3 linked regions of the Homo sapiens genome follow. Changing the gene in region 2 together with the main gene of any one other region gives a genetic interaction. Each region holds a gene or a part of one and is shown on either strand. Other genes may lie near its edges.

Region 1 (7,940 bases), on a different chromosome or scaffold from region 2:
CTTTCACTGCTCCTAATCATTCCTCCGGTTTTGGGGTGAGTCACTATTGTTAGTCTAAGCCTTCCATTGTTGTTCTTTTCACCAAATAGGCCACATGATGGTATCATTCACTATAGAAATGTACACCAGCCCACCATGGATAAATGCTCCCTAGGGATTTGTTGAGGGAGTGAAGGAAGAAACTAGAATGGAAGGTCTTGATGGGAGAGAGGAAGAAAAAAAAGCTTACCAATTCAGACTTCCATTTAACTTTAATAAATCTCTTACTAATATTTTTACTCTATTTGAACCTGTATAAAAGAGATCGGGGTTGTCTGCTCTTGCTTTTAAACTATAATCAATATCTGATAGATATTATGATAATTCAAAATAAGTGTTTATTACTCCAGAAATTAGCCCTATATGCAAGTCCAGCTCTTTTCTCATTGTTCTGAGTTTATTCTTCCAAGTTTCAAAGCAATGCATTAATGACTTCAAAAATGACTTCAAATAAATTTGCCCATAGGCATTTTTCTGTTTTTAAACAAGTACTTCTTCAGATTACATGAGTCAATAGGAATCTGAAATTTCCCTAAGAATTAATGGTACCAAAACTAATCTGTATCACCACCGGGAAAAGTGCTGGCTTGGGATTCAGGAGACCTGCATTCTAGCCCTATCTCTGCCACTGACCATCCCCAGAATCTGAGGTTATGTGACTAGACAAGCTAAGATCCCAACCAGTTCTAGAATTCTACAATTTGCAAGATTTGGAAACTGACATCTAGATATATAGATATATCTACATACACAGACACCAAAGTAATCGCCCTGGTGGTAGGAGAATCAAGTGAAAAATCACAAAGTGATGGGAAGAAAGAAAGGAAAGAAAAACAACATTTGTCTCTCCTATTGCATGACTTAGCATTGACAGTTATCAGTCCTACCTTTTTCACTGTGTCCTTCAGCTTTTGCACATTCCTCTGGATATGCAGGTCATCACCTTCAATATGCTATAAAACAATAACAAGCATAACTATCTTAATGTTGTGCTGAAACTTTATGAACCTCCACACCCATGGAGGTACAGTACAATTCACCTGGAATTAAAGCTCTTAGTAATTTTGCCCACAATGACCTAGATTTCAACAGTGACCTAGATTTCCTGAGCTCTTGAATTCCCTTGGACGCCAGAATCCAGTCACTTCCCTTACAAGAGACCTCTCTTCATCTTTGGGAAATCCTACTGAGGTTTGCATTTGTGGAAAGAGCGGAGTAGTTTATGCAAATTCTGTAAGGAATAAAACCTCAATCGTATCTCCAGAAAATTGCATGCTTAGAACAAGAAATGTACATAAAACATCTCATGTGAAAATTAAGCCCTCTTCAGTAAGTCCTAGGGCCTTTTACTGGGCCCACTCCACTCAAACTTTTTTTCATAGTTTCAAATGTTCAGCGGCATCAAGTTCACACGCCTCCGATTTTGTGGCTTCCCATGACATCAACAGGGCAACAGTCTGCCGACCCACCACCGACTTTAAGCCTTCCCATTTCCCACTTTCTCTTCTAATTTCTCTCCATGCCATCCCCTCCCCTCAACAACTTAGACTCAATGGATCCATTTCCACATCTAGATGTTTTTCCCAACACCTTTCTCATCTTACGCAACCTGAGTTGCCTTTTTTCCGAAGACAAACCAATGCGGCTTCTGTACACTTAAGTTCCAGACCCCATTCACCACTATAAACTCAAGATGTGACTCAGTCAAAGCAAAAGCAAATACTCTATGATCCCAAATGACTCCTGATAACACTGCTGCCAAGACACTTCTTCCTGCTAGCTTAGGGGTAGGGGGAAGGAGAGAGAGTTGGGGTAAGGGGGTCTCTGTGGAAGGAGGGAAGGAGGGGTAGGTGGGCATAGGCTGAGAGCTGAACTTACACATGTGCTTAGCCTGTTGCTGAGCCTGGCCAGGAAGGGCACCACCTCCTGCATATAAGGCTGGAACCTATCAGATTGAGGGAACAGCACTTCTTCAAGGGTGAAGTTCAGCACCTGCTTCATCAGATAGCAGCGCTCACTCATCTGCAGGTGGAAGGGAAACAGAAAGGGTCATAAGGGATAAGACCTAAACCATCATCACCACCACCCCAAGTACCCATGGACGGCACACGGCCCTGTTCGTCACAACTGTAGCTTACACTGACTCCGTGGAACAGTTTCTCCCCAATGAGACGAACGTCTGTGTTGTTATCAGCCAAGCTAGCCTGGAAGAGAAGAAAAGACTAAGGGTCTGGACATTGAGCAAATAGAAAAAAAATTTATACATAGACATGTGCCCCATCCCGTCTCCCCAGAGCAACATCATAAAGACTAAAAGCAGAATTCAGATGTGTGCATGAGTTTAGAACAATGCACAGAGGCATAAAGGAAAAAAAAAATCATCAGATGGATTACTGAATGGCCGCTCTTTGGGAAAAATTCATCATATGTATCATAAAGGCCAAAATGGAAGGAAGAAGTTCAAGAAAAAAAAAAAAGCCAGATTCCCAAAGAGTCTCTGAAAAAACAGAAAATTTATCTACCCTCAGGGATAAACAGTGGGTTCCTAAAGCTCTTAGAGATGCTCTGAAGAAAAGTTTAAGAACTATTTGGATTCCAAGTAGATCCAACGAGAAAGAGCAGGATTGAGATGTATACCTCCTTAGCCAGCATGAAGGTGCGGTTGGTGATATAGGGCTGCTGGAAGTTGGACTTGTCAAGCCTGCAGTGGGAGCTGATGGGCGCAGCTGCTCCTCCCTGTACCAAGAGGGCCAAGAGAAGGAGGCAGCTGGTGGCCAGGGTCCCCATAAGGAAAGAGCTCACAGATTTCTGCAGGGCGGCCATTGCAGACAATTCTAACTCGAGCAACTGGTGACTGGGGAAGGAGAACCTGGTCGAAGACAACGTGAAGGAACAAAATTAGTCAAGAAGTATTTCATCAAACTAACCAATTGTACCAAGTTTGCCGAAACGCTTACCTGTTCTGAAGATTCTGCTTGTGACGGGGAAGGTAGAAGCTGCTGCTTTTATAGCCCCCAGGATACTGACTTTTTTTTAATTGTGAAAAATATGACATCAGCAATTATCTAATTTCCAGTACTGTCTTCTGAGAACGACCTAACCACCACAGGAGCCCACAAAACACCACCTCTATCCTTTCCACCTTGAGATGCAAGTGTTTCCCTAAAACGTCACTATTAGAGCCCGGAGGGTATTTTACAGACAAATCCCAGAAATTTTCTAAACCCTACATATTTTTCAAAGAACACAATTGTTTTGTCTTAGTAGAGTTCAGATTTAGTATAAAATGTTTTGATCTCCTATAGTGGCTGAGTAAGCATTTTGGTCACGGACTCATTTTCCTACCAGCTTTATAGATTCTTATCTCATTGGAGGTGATCAGAAAAAAAGGACCCATGTCCTATATCCTCTGCTTTAAAGTAAATGGTAATGACAGCTAACAGATCATTCCATTATTAAAATAATTTTATCTCATTTTTAAACATGCTGAATTCTAAACCAGACTTATGTTTCAAAAATAACTGTCTTGGCTAATCTAATTATTGTTTTCTTCCCTTTTTGGAACTATTTTTAAGTGATCATAACAATTAAGGCAGAAGTAAATATATCTTAAAATTGTATTAATTGAATTATAATCAATATCAACTTAAGTTTGTAAATACTAATGCTGAAAATCTGATCTCCTTTTTTCTTAACATGTAAACTTTTTTTAAAATAAAAGAATACCATGGATATAGTTCATCTTAAAATTTTACCTAATTCTACACTTCACACAAGTCTCAACATAATATTTCCAAATAATCCTATAACAACTATATATGTGTGTGTATATATATTATATATGTGTGTATACTATATATATACATATATATGCAACATTTTATATATATACATATATACACACACACACATGGATGTCTGAAGAAGGGAATATAGGAATATAGAGGTTCCGCGTTACCTTCAAATTATTTAAAAATACACCTAAAACTAGACTGGAAATTCTCCCGCAGAGCAAGGAAGCAAATGCAAGTATCAAAATGCAAATACCTATTGCTGAGGGAAGGAATGTGAATTAGTGCAAATTTGTATAATCAGATTTTTCTCCTCACAACTAGTTAAGATCAGGAGTGTTGAAGAACTGGAAGTAGGGATGTAAATAATTGTAAAACCTAGACCACTTTTTGAGATGGCACAGACCTAAGCAAGGTGCCACTGCAAAGGGTCGGAACCACATGAGGACACTGAGCATTTGTGAAGGTGGCCAGAGGAGAAAGAAGCAAAAATGAAGATTAGTGAGAGTAAAAAACACCACATGATCACACTTGCATGTGGAATCTAAAACACTTGAACTCATAGAAGGAAAGAGTAGAATGGTGGTTGCCAGGGGCTGGGTGGGCAAGGGGCAGCGAGATGGGGAGATGTTACCCAAAGGATACAACATTTCAGTTAAAGAAGAGGAATAAGTTGAAGAGCTCTATTGTCCATCATGGTGATGATAGTTAAGAACAATATATCGTATGCTTAAAAATCACAAAGAGCATAGATTGTAAATGTTCTCATTACAAAAAAAAATTTCAAGTATGTGAGGTAATGCATATATGTTAATTCACTCAATTTAGCCATTCCACAATGCATGCGTATATCAAAACATATATGAAATCAACCTAAGTATCCACAGATGGATGGATGAATGGATAAAGAAAATGTGGTATATATACACAATGGAATACTATTCAGCCATAAAAGAAATGTAATCCTGTCATTTGCAATAACGTGAATGAACCTGAAGGACACCATGTTAAGTGAAATAAATCAGATGCGGAAAAACAAATACTGCATGATCTCACTGATATGTGGAATCTAAAAAATAATAATGATAATAATAAAGTTGATATAGAAGCAGAGAATATAACAGTGGTTTACCAGAGACTGGGGGAGTAAGTGGGGAAAGGAGGATGGGGAGAGGTTGGTCAACGGGTACAACGATACAATTAGAAGGAATAATTTCGGTGTTCTATTACACAGTAGAATGACTGTATTTAACAGGAAAATATTGTATTTTACAAAATAGCTAGAAGAGAGGCTTTTGAAGATTCTCACCACAAAGTAATGATAAATGCATGAGGTGATGGATACACTAACTAACCTAATTGTATCATACAGCATACACTTATATCAAAACATCAAATTATACTCCATAGATATGTACAATTATAATGCATCAATTTAAAAAATAAGTAATTTTTAAAACATCATATTGTGTAACATAAATACTGTATATATAATTTTTATTTGTCAAATAAAAATAAGATTTTTTTTCTGAATTGAAAAAAAATAGGTGTGTTCCAAATGTTTCCTTGGGGTTGACCATGGGCCCAAGAAAAGATGATGAAACTCTTCCTTATTCAGTTTCCTATTATATATGGCCATTTTTGCCCAGAACTCCGTATAATTCTATTAGCACTAGATTTAAGCTATTCATCGATTAAATAGGCTTTTGTGGGTTTGCCTGGGAAACTGACCAGCATACATAATTTTCTTTCCACGGGAAAATAAGTTTTGACATCGTTGAATTACATGCTTTCGAGGGAAGAGTCTCTGTCTCTTTCGTCTTTGTGACTCCAACACTTAGAACAGTGCTACACACATAGGAAGGACTCAATAAAAGCATATTGACAGCCTTTACGGTATTTCTAAAGTTGATGTTTGACCCAGTCCTGCTTACCAGCTTATTGTTCCTGAATAGAAAATAAATCACTGTGAAACAGAAAGAGAATGTCAGAAAATTGCAAAGCCCTCTTTAAGAGCAGCAGTGTGTCTCTTATTCATTGTATGCCCCTGATGGACCAAGCATCAAGAAGATAGTGTTAATGGAGCCTAGATCTTAAGTTTCAATGAGTTTAACTAAAACTCACTAAAGGGAAAATCTGCTCTGGTGTTGTATGGGGGTTTCTGAACAGTCATACTAGGAGTCTCAGAAATATTTGCTATTAGAAGAGATTGTGAGGCTGGGCGCAGTGGCTCACGCCTATAATCCCAGCACTTTGGGAGGCTGAGGTGGGCAGATCACCTGAGGTCAGGAGTTTGAGACTAGTCTGGCCAACATGGTGAAACCCTGTCTCTACTAAAAATACAAAAATTAGCCGGGGGTGGTGGTGCACCTATAGTCCCAGCTACTCGGGAGGCTAAGGTGGGAGAATCGCTTGAACCCAGGAGGCTGAGGTTGCAGTGAGACAACATCACCGCACTGTGCTATAGTCTGGGTGATAGAGCAAGATTCTGTCTCAAAAAAAAAAATGGAAGAGATTGTGGGTATAACAAAAAGGTGATCCTGTGAAAACAGCAACCAGAGACATATGTATGCTAAATACTTTCAGATTATAATGGGCCTTTTCTGCAGTTGTTTCCTTGTGAATTTTCAAGTCTCTCCCAAAGCCACCGCAGATGAAGAGCAACCCCAAAGCCCACCTCCCAGGTCCCAGACAGACCATACCCATGGTTGATTTGGAATATGTAACAATTTACCTGATCTAATGCCAAGAAGGACTAATCAGAATCCTCAACCAGAAGTAGGCTTTGGCTGTCTCATTCACTATACTGTGCCTAGCACATGGAACAGTGCCTGGCATATAGTGGCAAAATAAATATTCATTGATCACATACATAAAATAGTTTCCCAACTCATTGACTGATGCTAGAAAATCCATGACTGGAAATGCATTCTTTAAGACACAAATCTCCCTAGAAGAAAGAAGACTTCTGGTATCACAGGTAAAAAGATTTGTACTCATCATACTCTTCAGTCCAGTGCACATGATCATTGTTCCATACAAGTTTCTGTGTGTGTGTGTGCACACGTGCGTGGGTGTGATCCTACCCTCATCATTCTCCTTCCCTCCCCACTAAACACCTACCACCACCTCTACCATTGCCATAGGTCATGGCTCTAATGTTTCATGTGTATTTCTGAATATCGATGCATCCCTGTGCAAAAAGAAGTGTTGTTTAGTGTGTGTAGGTATTTTTATTTTACAGGAATGGCTCTCTTTCTTACCTTTTTACTGAGCATGATGTCTTACCATCTGTCCATGTTTCTTTGTGTAGCCTCTGCTTGTAATGTGACATTCCAGAGTGTGTACCGACCACATCTTACTTATTCATTCTCCAACAGTGGGCACCTGAACTGCCTCCAATTGCCCAGACCACAGACATTGTAGCTCTAAACACCCTTAACCAAGTCATTTTTATGGTATTTTTTGAGAGTATTTTTGACATAATTTTTGAAGTATGTCCACTAAGTCATAAGGATAAGTTTATTAGCATTTACTAAATATTGCCAGATTGCTCTCCAGAAAGAGTGTTAATCTACTCTCACACCAGCAAATAAAGCTTCCTCTGTTTCCTTAAATCCCCCTCCACACTTCGTATGATCCAGCTTTAACTTGGCCAGGCTTTGGAGGTTTAAAATGGTATCTATCTTGTTACTGTTTTAATTTACATTTTTCTTCATACACTAGTAGCCACTCGGGTTTCCACCTTTTATACATTGGTTACTTACATTAGTCACTCATTTTTCTAGCGGGCTTTGCTCTTTTTCTGTTGTTGATTTGTAAGAGTTCCCTGTATATTTTTGGTTGTAGCCATAACAAACTCTCCTCCTTTTGTTTTGTTTTTGTTTTTGTTTTTTTTGAGACGGAGTCTCGCTCTGTCACCCAAGCTGGAGGGCAGTGGTGCAATCTCAGCTCACTGCAACCTCCACCTCCTCAGTTCAAGCAACTCTCCCACCTCAATCTCCCAAGTAGCTGGGATTACAGGCATCCGCCACCATGCCTGGCTAATTTTTAGTAGAGATGGGGTTTCATCATATTGGCCAAGCTGGTCTCGAACTCCTGACCTCAAGA
Region 2 (7,040 bases):
GTTAATCATTATGTCTAGCTTCAGTTTCTCCTGCTTCAGTTTAAATTGGGAAAGAGAGAGAAAAAATATTCACTCATTATCTGTTTCCTAAAATTGTCCTTAACATCCTTCCTCTTACTCCTTTATTACCTGGTCGGGCTTCCCCTCTTCAGGCGAAATCTGTCAGTCTATCTGCATTGCCTTTTGATCTCTACTTCAGTTACTACAACTTCAAAGACACCATTGTCCTCCCCAAGGTGAGGCCCATGTAGAGAAAGGATCACTTCCTTGCTGAAAGAGAGGGTCAAGGGGCGACCCACGTGGGCCCTCCCTGAAACCCAGGCCCAGGCCTGAGCCTGGACACCTCCTTCCTTCCTGAGACCACAGCCAGCCCGGTTTCTCTGGGGCCAAGAGCAAATGCTTTGCTTAAGTGCTGAAATCTCAGCCCACTGACCCCTTGCAGACAGGAGAGGAGGGGAAGCCCAGGGAAGCTCAACTTCCCAAGTGTCCTGAGTCTCTGCTGGGGCCAAGCCCCCCACCCTCCCCCAGCTATCCTGCATTCTCCCTCCCTAACACTGTTCTCTCCCTAAGAGATCAAATCCCCCCACCAGTGCACAATGCACTCTAATTCTCCATTGTAAAAGTAAAGCACTCTCTTGACACTCCCCTTCTTCATTTGGCTCCAATCCCATTTATCTGCTCCCTTTACAGCAGGCCCCCTTGTCTGTTGCCTGTACTGCTGTCCCCAAGTCCTCCCATCCCCTCCCATTCCCTCTAGTTCCCCATCCAGCTCCAGTGAAACTGTCACCAGTGACCTCCCATTGCTCAATCCTCAGCCCTCAGCCTGCTTGCTCTGCCAGGGGCATTGGTCATATTTGTTCCCTCCTTCCTCTTTGGGGCATTTTCTTCATTTCCTCCAGGACACCCCAACTCTCTGATTTTCACTCTTTCTGTCTTCTTGGCTGGTTCCTAACACTGGGGGCCCCAGCACTCAATGGTTAGACCCCTTCTCTTCTCCATATCACTCCATCCCTAGATGAGCCCACCTGCTCTTGTGGCTTTAAATACCAGTTATATGGTGATGATGCCCAAAGTTTTATTTTCAACTCCAACCTCCGCCCTTAACTTTTCCCAACTGCTTACTCATCATTGATGCCTAATGGGCAGCTCAAACTCCACAAGCACAAAACCAAACTCTTGATCTCTCCGCTAAGCAACTCCCATTTCAGTTCATGGCAGCTTCAAACCTCCAGAAGCTCGAGCCAAACACTCAGAATCATCTTTGACTCTACCTTTCTCTTGCACCCCAAACCCTATCGACACGGCCTTTGAAATATATCCCAAATCTGAATGTCTGGTTTTCTTTTTTTTAACCACCTCTGGGCCATGGGCAAGACACCATGGTCTCTCCCGAGAATGACAGCAATGATCCGCTCAACGGGCTCTCCTTCTGCCCTTACCCCACCCCCCCCATGATCCATTCTCCACCCCACAGCTAGATGGGCCTGCCAGACCCCAAGTCAAAGCAGGTGACTCCTCTGTTCCAAACCCGTGCTCCCATCATGCTCAGAGTGAAAACCAAAGCCTCCCAGCCCCCCAGATACTCATGTGGCTCACCCCTCAATTCCTTATGACTTTGCCCAGCTATCGTGGTCTTGGGGAAGCCTTCCCTGGTTGTGCTATATACAATGCAATACCCAGCCCCAGCACCCCATCCTGCTTCCCAGCTTTGTTTTACTCGTAGTACTTCCCGCCACCTGCTACGCCATGTATTTACTTATTTCATTGCTGTCCATTCCTTTCTAGAGTGTGCACTCCATGAGGGCAGGGGGTTTTGTCTGATTTTCCTACTGCTCTGTCTCGTGTCTCATCCAGTGCATGAATGATGACTGCTGGAAAGAATGAAAGAACTGACTTGCTCTGCATGGCTCCGGGAGACAGACATGGAACCAAGGTGTAGAATCTGTAAGCCACAGATTTTAGCTAAAGGAAACAAGAGCTGCAAGGCACTAAAAAGCCACCTCATCAGTAATAAGCTCCCCACCACTGGGCATGTGTCACAGAGGGGCTCTGCACTGGGTAGGAGGGAGGTGGGCTGGATGAGGATGCTTCCAGCCTCAGATCCCAGGGTGCAGCGAGGCAAAGGGGCCTTGAGCAGCCAACAAACTCAGGGGCCCCAGCAGCCCCATGGCTGAGTGATCGGGACAGGCAAGTACAGGTGGTGGGGATGTCACTCTGGTCTTTTTCACTAAGGGGTCAGGGGAGGGTGACAGGGCAGGTGTTTCCCCTCTGTAGAACAAGGACCCTGGAGGAGGCTAGGTCACAGCCCATGGGGAAACCAAGGCCATGGCAGGAGAGGCTCAGAAAGAGCAAACTCAGAAGCAGGGGTCCAGCCCCCAGCCCTCATGCAGCTTCAGGAGGTCCTCCCCAGGGGGATTGGGGTGGAGGGCTTTTCAGTTTGTTGGAATGAAAGCAGGACCAGATGGCTGCTCCATCAACCTGAGAAGCATAGGAGAGCAAACAGCTGGGGGATGTGGCCTCGCAGGTCCTGGTGTGGGCTGTCTGGGAAGGGATGGATTTGAACTTAGATCTCACACCCAACAAGGGAGAAGGAGGAGGCAGGAGATTCCCATAAGAGGTACAGAGAGCAGCAGCAGGATCCTCCAGGCAGACTCTCTCACTTATACCCACCCACTCACTGGCATGGTGAAGCTGGGGAAACTGAGTCCCACAGAGAGGAAGGAAATCAAAAGAGTGGCCCAGGGGCCTCCCCAACCTCGAGATGCCCCCTTTCCGTCTCACTTCCCATCTACATTCTGGGACTCCCCCAGGAGAAACCGAGGCAACCCTTGCCCAAGCCCTGCGGCCAGGACGGCTCAGAAGCCAAGTGTTCAAGTCCCGGGGGTGGGACCCTCGGCGCCCACAGTCTCCCCCCAGCCCACCCCCAGGCGCTGGGCACAGCACTCACCGCGAGCCGCCTGCGCGCCGACTCCAAGGCCCACTCCGGGCCACGACTCCCGGCTCCGGCTCCGGCTCGGGCTGCGGCTCCGGGTGCGCGGGCGCTCGGCTCCGCCCCCGCCCGGACCCCGCCCCTGCTCTGCCGGGACCGCAGCACCCGCTCCTGTCCCGTGGCCCCGCAGCCCCGCAGCCCCGCAGCCCCGCAGCGCCGGCTCCAGGGCTGGCCAGGCTTACCTGGGACAGGGCAGGACCGGGGCTTCCTGCGGGGCTGGACGGCCCTGGCTGTGTGCCCTAGCCAGTGTGCCTCTCTTTCTGGGCCACGTTTCAACCAGGAGGGAATCGGGGAGTCCTCGGAACAACCCGCTTCCCAACACATACACATACACACACACACACACCACACACCACACACACCGCTTCCCAGCACACACGCGCACACACACACACCACACACACACCGCTTCGCAACACACACACACGCCCTGCTTCCCCCCCACACGCAAACATGTTTCCCAATACACACACACAGCCCTCGCTTCCCCCCACACACAAACATGCTTCCCAATACACACACAGCCCTCGCTTCCCCCAACACACATACCTTGCTTCCCAACACTCACATACACACACACACACGCCCTGCTTCCCCCCACCACAAACATGCTTCCCGATACACATACACCCCCTACTTCCAACACACACACCCTGCTTCCCAACACTCACACACACACCACTTCCCAACACACACACACCCTGCTTTCCCAACACATACACCCCACACACACCGCTTCCCAACACACACGTGCACACACACACACACCCCACACACACACCACTTTCCAACACAAACACACACTACACTCCCTGCTTTCCCAACACACACACACCCCACACACACTGCTTCCCAACACACACGTGCACATACACACACCCCACACACACACCACTTCCCAACACACACACACCACACCCCACACACACCACTTCCCAACACACACACCGCTTCCCAACACACACAAACATGCTTCCCAATATACACACACCCCACTTCCCAACACACACACATCGCTTCCCAACACACACATCGCTTCCCAACACACGCCTCACTTCCCAACACACACACACACACACACGCACACACAGCCAAAACTAGGAAAACTTTTCCAGAGTGTGACAGGTTACATGTTAGGTAAGAGTGGACTGGTCATTTAAGGTTCTTTTTTTTCATTTTCCTTTCAGTTTTTCCGTTTATGTTGAATGGAGTTTATTTCTCAGTTTAGTACTAATAGGGTTTGAGTACCTTTCTAGCACTGCCTAGATTACTTGGCTCTGAAACTATCTAATTAGCTTTAATAGCATTGTTTTTGTTTCCATTAAATATATTTTATTTTACATTCTTCTGTTCTCCGGAGCAAATGACACCGGTTTTCCATTTAACATGTTAATGTAAATGTTCCTTTTGAAACTCATATTTGGTTGTTTTAAAAAATGTGAAGTCAATTTTTAAAAATAACGAAAATAACTGGCATCTAGAAAGTGTTTACCATGTGCTAGTCTTTACAGACAGTAACTCAGTTACTTCCACCTCTAGGGTATTGACTATTATTGCCTCTAACTTATAGATGCAGAAACTGAGGTACACATTTGAACTTTGATCTCACGCCCACCAAGGGAGAAGGAGGAGGCAGGAGATTCCCCTAAGAGGTGCAGAGAGCAGCAGTAGGATCCTCCAGGCAGACTCGCTCACTTACACCCACCCACTCACTGGCATGGTGAAGATGGGGAAACTGAGTCCCACAGAGAGGAAGGTACTCAAAAAACAGTGGCCCCCTCTGAGACCTGAAGCCCGGGCTCCTCAGGACTTCTCACTCCTGCCAGGGGCCTCCCCAGCCTCGAGATGCCCCCTTTCCTCTGGCACCAGAGATGGGGATTTGCCCCAGGCCTCTGGCACAGATGAATGCTCTAACCACTACCCCATACCGCTTTCAAGTAAATACCTGTGCAGGTGGTGCACAGTCAGCCAAGGTTGGAAAATGCTGCATTAGAAGGACTGAATCTACCCTAGAAAATTCATTCTGGGCAGCGCACAGAACCATCTACAAGGATGTTCACCACCATCTTGCCTACAGCAGTGAGAAGCTAGAAACCTCCCTAATGCCCAGTAACAGAAAATTAATTAAGAAAACTGACAGAACATCTGAACCTAGAACACTTAACCCGACCCATCTTCTCTCAGCCCCACTATCCAATCTGGGAGCAAATTTTTCAGCTTGGCCTTCAAATATTTCCAAGCTGCAGCCCATTTTTGCCATATGCACCATTACCACCTGGGTCCACATCTCCATCATCTCTCACCTGGGTGATAGCAGGAGTTCCTGGCCATTCTCCACGCCTCCATCTACAGCCCTTCTTCAATCCAGCAGCCAGAGTGAGTCTGTTGGTTTTGCTGTTGTTGTCGTTGTTGCTGTTTTAAGTCAAATTCTATCACTCCTCTGCTGAAACTCTTCTGTTGATGGCTCCCATCCCAAAGTAAAAGCCAAGGTCCTTACAATTGCTGTTTGGCCTCTGGCACCCTCTCTGCCCACCTCTTACACTCTCATCTTACTCACTCTGCTCCAGCTACACTGGCCTCCTGGCTGTTCCTCAAATATGCCAAACCTGCAGTTACACTCAGGCCTTTGCCTTTGCTGTGCCTGGAATGCTCTTTCTTTAGAAATCTACCTGGCTCCCTCCTTCCTCTCCTTTGGGTCTTTGCTTCCATATGACTTTCTCGGCAAGGCCTTCCCTAACTATTCGGTGTACAGCTGCAACACCCTCCAATCCCTTCTCTCCTGCTTTATTTTGTATTTTTCTCCATAGCGCTTATCTGCACACAACACATTATGTATTCTACTTATTTATTGTCTTTGTTGTTGGTCTCTCACCCAAGACAGCATGAGCTCCAAGGGAACAGGGAATTTTTGCTTTGTCCCTTGCCTTCTCCCAAGGCCTAGAACAGGACCTGGCATGCAATAAATCTTTGTTGAGTGAATATACTAAAAATAATGCTGTGGTTCTAATAACCAATGAAAATAAATGAATCACTGTACCCCCACGAGAACTGCAGCCTCACAGACATAATGTTGGGTGAAACAGGCTGAGTGCAAGAGCGTGCATACGGAATGGTATCCTTTCTATAAAGTTCAAAAGCAGGCAAAACTGCATTACAGGTAGGAGCCAAGATAGAGGCTACCACTGGGGAGAAAGTTGGAGGTAGTGACTAGGGGAGGAGTGAAGGGGACTTCTGGGGTGCCAGTAATCTCCTATTTTTACTCTGAATAGTGGTTGCATTGATGCAAATACATTGTGAAACTGACCAAGTTAAACACATGATATTTATATTTTCCTTTATGCTTGTCATATTTCAATAGATATTTATTTTTTAAAGATGCTATAAGTATGTTTATCAGATAGAAAGCTGCCTAGAATATATAAGGCTAAATTTATAAAGTAGACTCTTTTTTGAACGAGGATGCCAAGATGATTCAGGGGGAAAAAAGTGGTCTTTTTAACAAATGGTGCTGGGAAAACTAGATGTCCACATGCAAAAGAACTGAATTTGGATTCCTCCTTCAGGCCTTATACAAAAATTAACCCAAAATGGATCAAAGTCCCAAATGCAAGATTTAAAATATAAAAATCTTAGAAGAAAACATAGGTGAAAATCTTTGTGACCTTGGATGAAGCAATGATTTCTCAGATTTGACACCTAAAGCACAAACAACCAAAGAAAAAAATAGATAAGTTGGACTTTATCAAAATTCCAAGCTTTTGTGCTTTGAAAGACATGATCAAGAAAGTAAAAAGACAACCAACGGAATGGGAGAAAATAGTCACGACTCATATCCAGAATATATAAAGGACTCCTGAAACTCAATAACAAACAACTTTTTAAATGAGCAAAGGATTTGAAAATGTTCAGAGAACGTATGTAAGTAGCCAACAAGCACATGAAAAGACGCTCAACATCATTAATTGTTAGGGAAATGTGAATCAAAGCCACCATAAGATACCACTTTACACTCACAAAGGTGCCCTTAGTCCAAAGGACAGAAAACAAGTGC
Region 3 (3,570 bases), on a different chromosome or scaffold from region 2:
ATCTCCTTACTTACCAAATTCTGAGTCATTATAATCTTTGTGGAAACTTTGACTCCACTATATTTATGCAAAATGCATTTTGTTAAAATCTAGGCAAAAGAGACTAAAACTCCAGAGGACTGAATTTATTTTAAAAATATGATAAACAGGTAAAAAACTTTGCATTTAGGATACCAGGATCTTTGCACTTGTCATATTCTAGTACAGATCTTTTAGGCTAGAAATGTCAACTAGATCACTTTCTAGGCCCAAAGAAAGAACATTCATATTTGCCTTTTCGTCAGGAGGCGACTAAGAAACACTACTAGGATATTTAGACTGAGATGCAGCATTATCAGACTGGTTGTGCAATAGGCTCCCCGGTTCACACTGCGTGGTCAGTTGCCTATCCTCCTCAGATTGGGAGCTTTATATAGGCAGACTATGCCTGCCTTGCTCACTGCTTTCTCCTTAGAACGAGTCCCATGCCTGGCACACAGAACACACAAATATTTGAATAAAGTGAATGAGTCTTAGTATATGCTTTTAGAATTATTTATTCAAAAACACTTTATAATAAATTCAGGTAACAGTAAAGTAATACATTCAATAGTACTAAAATCTATAGAAAATAGATAATTTCATTAAGGTGCAATTAAAATACTTGAAATTGGGACACATCTCTATATTTCAAACCAATATACTGGCTTTCTTTTTAAAAGACTATTCTAGTCTTTACGCTGTCCAAAGTTTTTCCTCTTTGCTTTTATTTGCTTTAGACCATATTTAAATTTTTAGCATTCCTAAGTGCATACATTTTAGGCATATACTATAATGACCAAGAGTTTGTGAACCTACTGATTAGGTAAACACTTTGGGGAGGTATGACCTGCACAAAGTAGGGTGGGAAAGCTATTATCTCCCTTAATCTGGACACAACTGTTCAAGCAGTCTATAATTTATTAGCTTCTCTGATAGCTTCACTATTTGGTTTTCATTGACCTTTTGAGCAACTGACTGGCAAACCCCAGATTCTTTTCGCCTGAAATCTTTTCAAGTTAGATACTGTCCATATTACACTTGTACTTATAATTTACTATCTTCTTGCCTTGGACAACTTATTTCTCCAAATTCTGATTTCTCCAGCAGTGTATTGGGATAGTATCACTAATCTTGCAAAGTAAAGATCAGAAATGCTGTACATAATATGGGTCAGTGACTTAGCATACAACAACTATTCTATGATTAATATTTTCAAAATCTAACTACTCCTCATTTGTCCTTGGCAGTTTTCTATCTTAGTCATTTGCAGAAAGAGTTCCAGCTTGCCAAAACCTTTTTTTTTTTTTTTTTGAGGCAGAGTCTTGCTCTGTCGCCAAGGCTGGAATACAATGGCAACCCTGTCTCTACTAAAATTACAAAAAAAAAATCTTTTATAATCTTAATTCTGTCATCTGTGAATTAGTTATTTCTCCTAGGCTTGTGATCTGTATGTAAATTTGATAAACTTTTCAAAGCCATTGATTAGAATACTTGAACAGAACAGGAGCCTCATAGCATACCATGCAAGGCTAAAGAGTAGATTAATGATGTTATTCAAAGCTCTCTGGATGCAACAACTAGCAAGAATTAGCTACAAATTCATTTATCTATACTATTATCTAGTTGATAATTTCTAATTTCACCCATGAAGATTTCAGGGCTTTCTTAAAGACATTTTAAGTTTACTGCATTTCCTTGATTTACTATAGTAATAAAACTACCAATATATACCAAATATTCATTTAGGCAGCTTGTAAGAAAAAGATACACCAAGGTAAGTTTGTAATTTGAAATGCAAAGTAATATTCTGAACAGTTCTCCAGAAGTCAAACCAAGAAATTTATAGTCCAAAAAGTTCTGGAGATTGGTTTTAGGGGAGGGGAAGGTGAGGAGATCAAATATGAATGAGTGCCTGCCATTGGCAATAAAAAGAAATGCCAACTCTTCATAAGAAAAAAATTTATATAACCTTCAAGGTCCAAATACGAGGAGAAAGCTCAATCACCCATTTGTTAATCTCCGCAGCTGGGATGAACATTTTCCTAAGGATGGAGAAGAGATTATACTCACTAATACACGAGTCAGTAGTTTTACTTTCAGGTGGCTTTTTATCTGATGTTTATCTTATATGATGACAGCTGGGGGACAGAGAAATGTTCCACTTCTACCTATGTATCAAACTAGATACCTAAGCCCTTCCCTTCCAACAGAACACAGAGAAATGCTGGATAAAATGTAGAAAACATTCTTTTAAATACATAGCAGAACTTACAAGAAAGGGGAAATCCTTACGGTCAAAAATGAGGGGAATGAGGCCGGGCGCGGTGGCTCACACCTGTAATCCCAGCACTTTGGGAGGCCGAGGAGGGTGGATCACGAGGTCAAGCGATCGAGACCATCCTGGCTAACACGGTGAAACTCCGTCTCTAATAAAAATACAAAAAATTAGCCGGGCGTGTTGGCACACGCCTGTAGTCCCAGCTACTCGGGAGGCTGAGGCAGGAGAATTGCTTGAACCCAGGAGGCAGAGGTTTCAGTGAGCTGAGATCATGCCACTGCACTCCAGCCTGGGTGACAGAGCAAGACTCTGTCTCAGAAAAAAATGAGGGGAATGAAAAACCAGAGAGGTGAATATGTGAGCTGATGCTGTAGCTGTCCTGGAACAATTTGCCAGTCTCATTAACCCACGGCTTTTAGCTTAGACATCTATATGGGGAGCAAAGAACCCAGGGCTTGCCAAAGGCAGGCAGTGGGAATTAAATGTACCTCCTTCCACCCCTGCCATAAAGGTGGGACACATGGAAGCTTATACTCTCAGTGAAAAAGGCATCAATCAAATATTCTGCCCACTAGCACAAGGAGATGAGGAGGAAGTGTGTTTGCCTTGGCCTGGGAAATCTCCTATCAGTATTTATGCTACACTTCAGGTATGGAAACCCTAAAGCCAAGAAATTAAAATAAGAATGGGCTTGTGTGCAGCAACAGCCCTGGGAATATGACATAAACAGACACTCAAGATTCCCATAGATAAAGCCTTGCTGAAAATAAACTCACTTTTCAAAAAGACAAAACTGGATGAACAGCCTATCAAATACAAAAATCAACAGATATAAACAGCAGGAACTAAATTTAATAGAACTATTACAGTGTCTATCAAGTACAGACATTTAAAATAATTAGTGACATAAAAAACATTAAAAAAACATTAAAAATGACATCAAGAAACAGAGATCTGAAAAATGATGCATAATTAGAAATGAAAAACAATTTCTGAAAGAAGAAGCCCAATGGATAGGGTAAAAGAGATTATATACATCTGACAAGAGAATTCATGAACTAGAAGGCAATCTATGAAGTTATCACAGAAAGATAACATACATGGACAGTACAGAAGGGCTTAAAAGATAAAGAGAATAGAATGAGAAGTTTTAATACACACTTAAAAAAATAGTAACTACACTAACTGTGTCTTTGAAATTTGTTCTCCATAACAACTTCATTATTTAGTAACACTGAGTGATCTTACTAGGAAAAATCCAAATACGTTTC

What was found. Genes that interact genetically often act in the same process or in processes that back each other up.
Region 1: changes in NOD2 (region 2) and IL22 together harm fitness more than expected from each alone (negative genetic interaction), as found in Homo sapiens cells (one study listed by BioGRID).
Region 3: changes in NOD2 (region 2) and ATM together harm fitness more than expected from each alone (negative genetic interaction), as found in Homo sapiens cells (one study listed by BioGRID).

What each region holds. Positions count from the first base shown.
Region 1 is NC_000012.12:68,250,587-68,258,526, forward strand, and holds the start of IL22 (interleukin-22 precursor), read right to left. Parts: upstream 3,019-7,940; 5' UTR 2,997-3,018; intron 2,909-2,996; 5' UTR 2,863-2,908; coding exon 2,677-2,862; intron 2,244-2,676; coding exon 2,178-2,243; intron 2,062-2,177; coding exon 1,918-2,061; intron 993-1,917; coding exon 927-992; intron 1-926. UniProt on the Homo sapiens protein: Cytokine that plays a critical role in modulating tissue responses during inflammation. Plays an essential role in the regeneration of epithelial cells to maintain barrier function after injury and for the prevention of further tissue damage.
Region 2 is NC_000016.10:50,689,570-50,696,609, reverse strand, and holds the start of NOD2 (nucleotide-binding oligomerization domain-containing protein 2), read right to left. Parts: upstream 3,005-7,040; 5' UTR 2,948-3,004; intron 1-2,947. UniProt on the Homo sapiens protein: Pattern recognition receptor (PRR) that detects bacterial peptidoglycan fragments and other danger signals and plays an important role in gastrointestinal immunity.
Region 3 is NC_000011.10:108,366,051-108,369,620, reverse strand, and holds the end of ATM (serine-protein kinase ATM), read right to left. Parts: 3' UTR 519-3,570; downstream 1-518.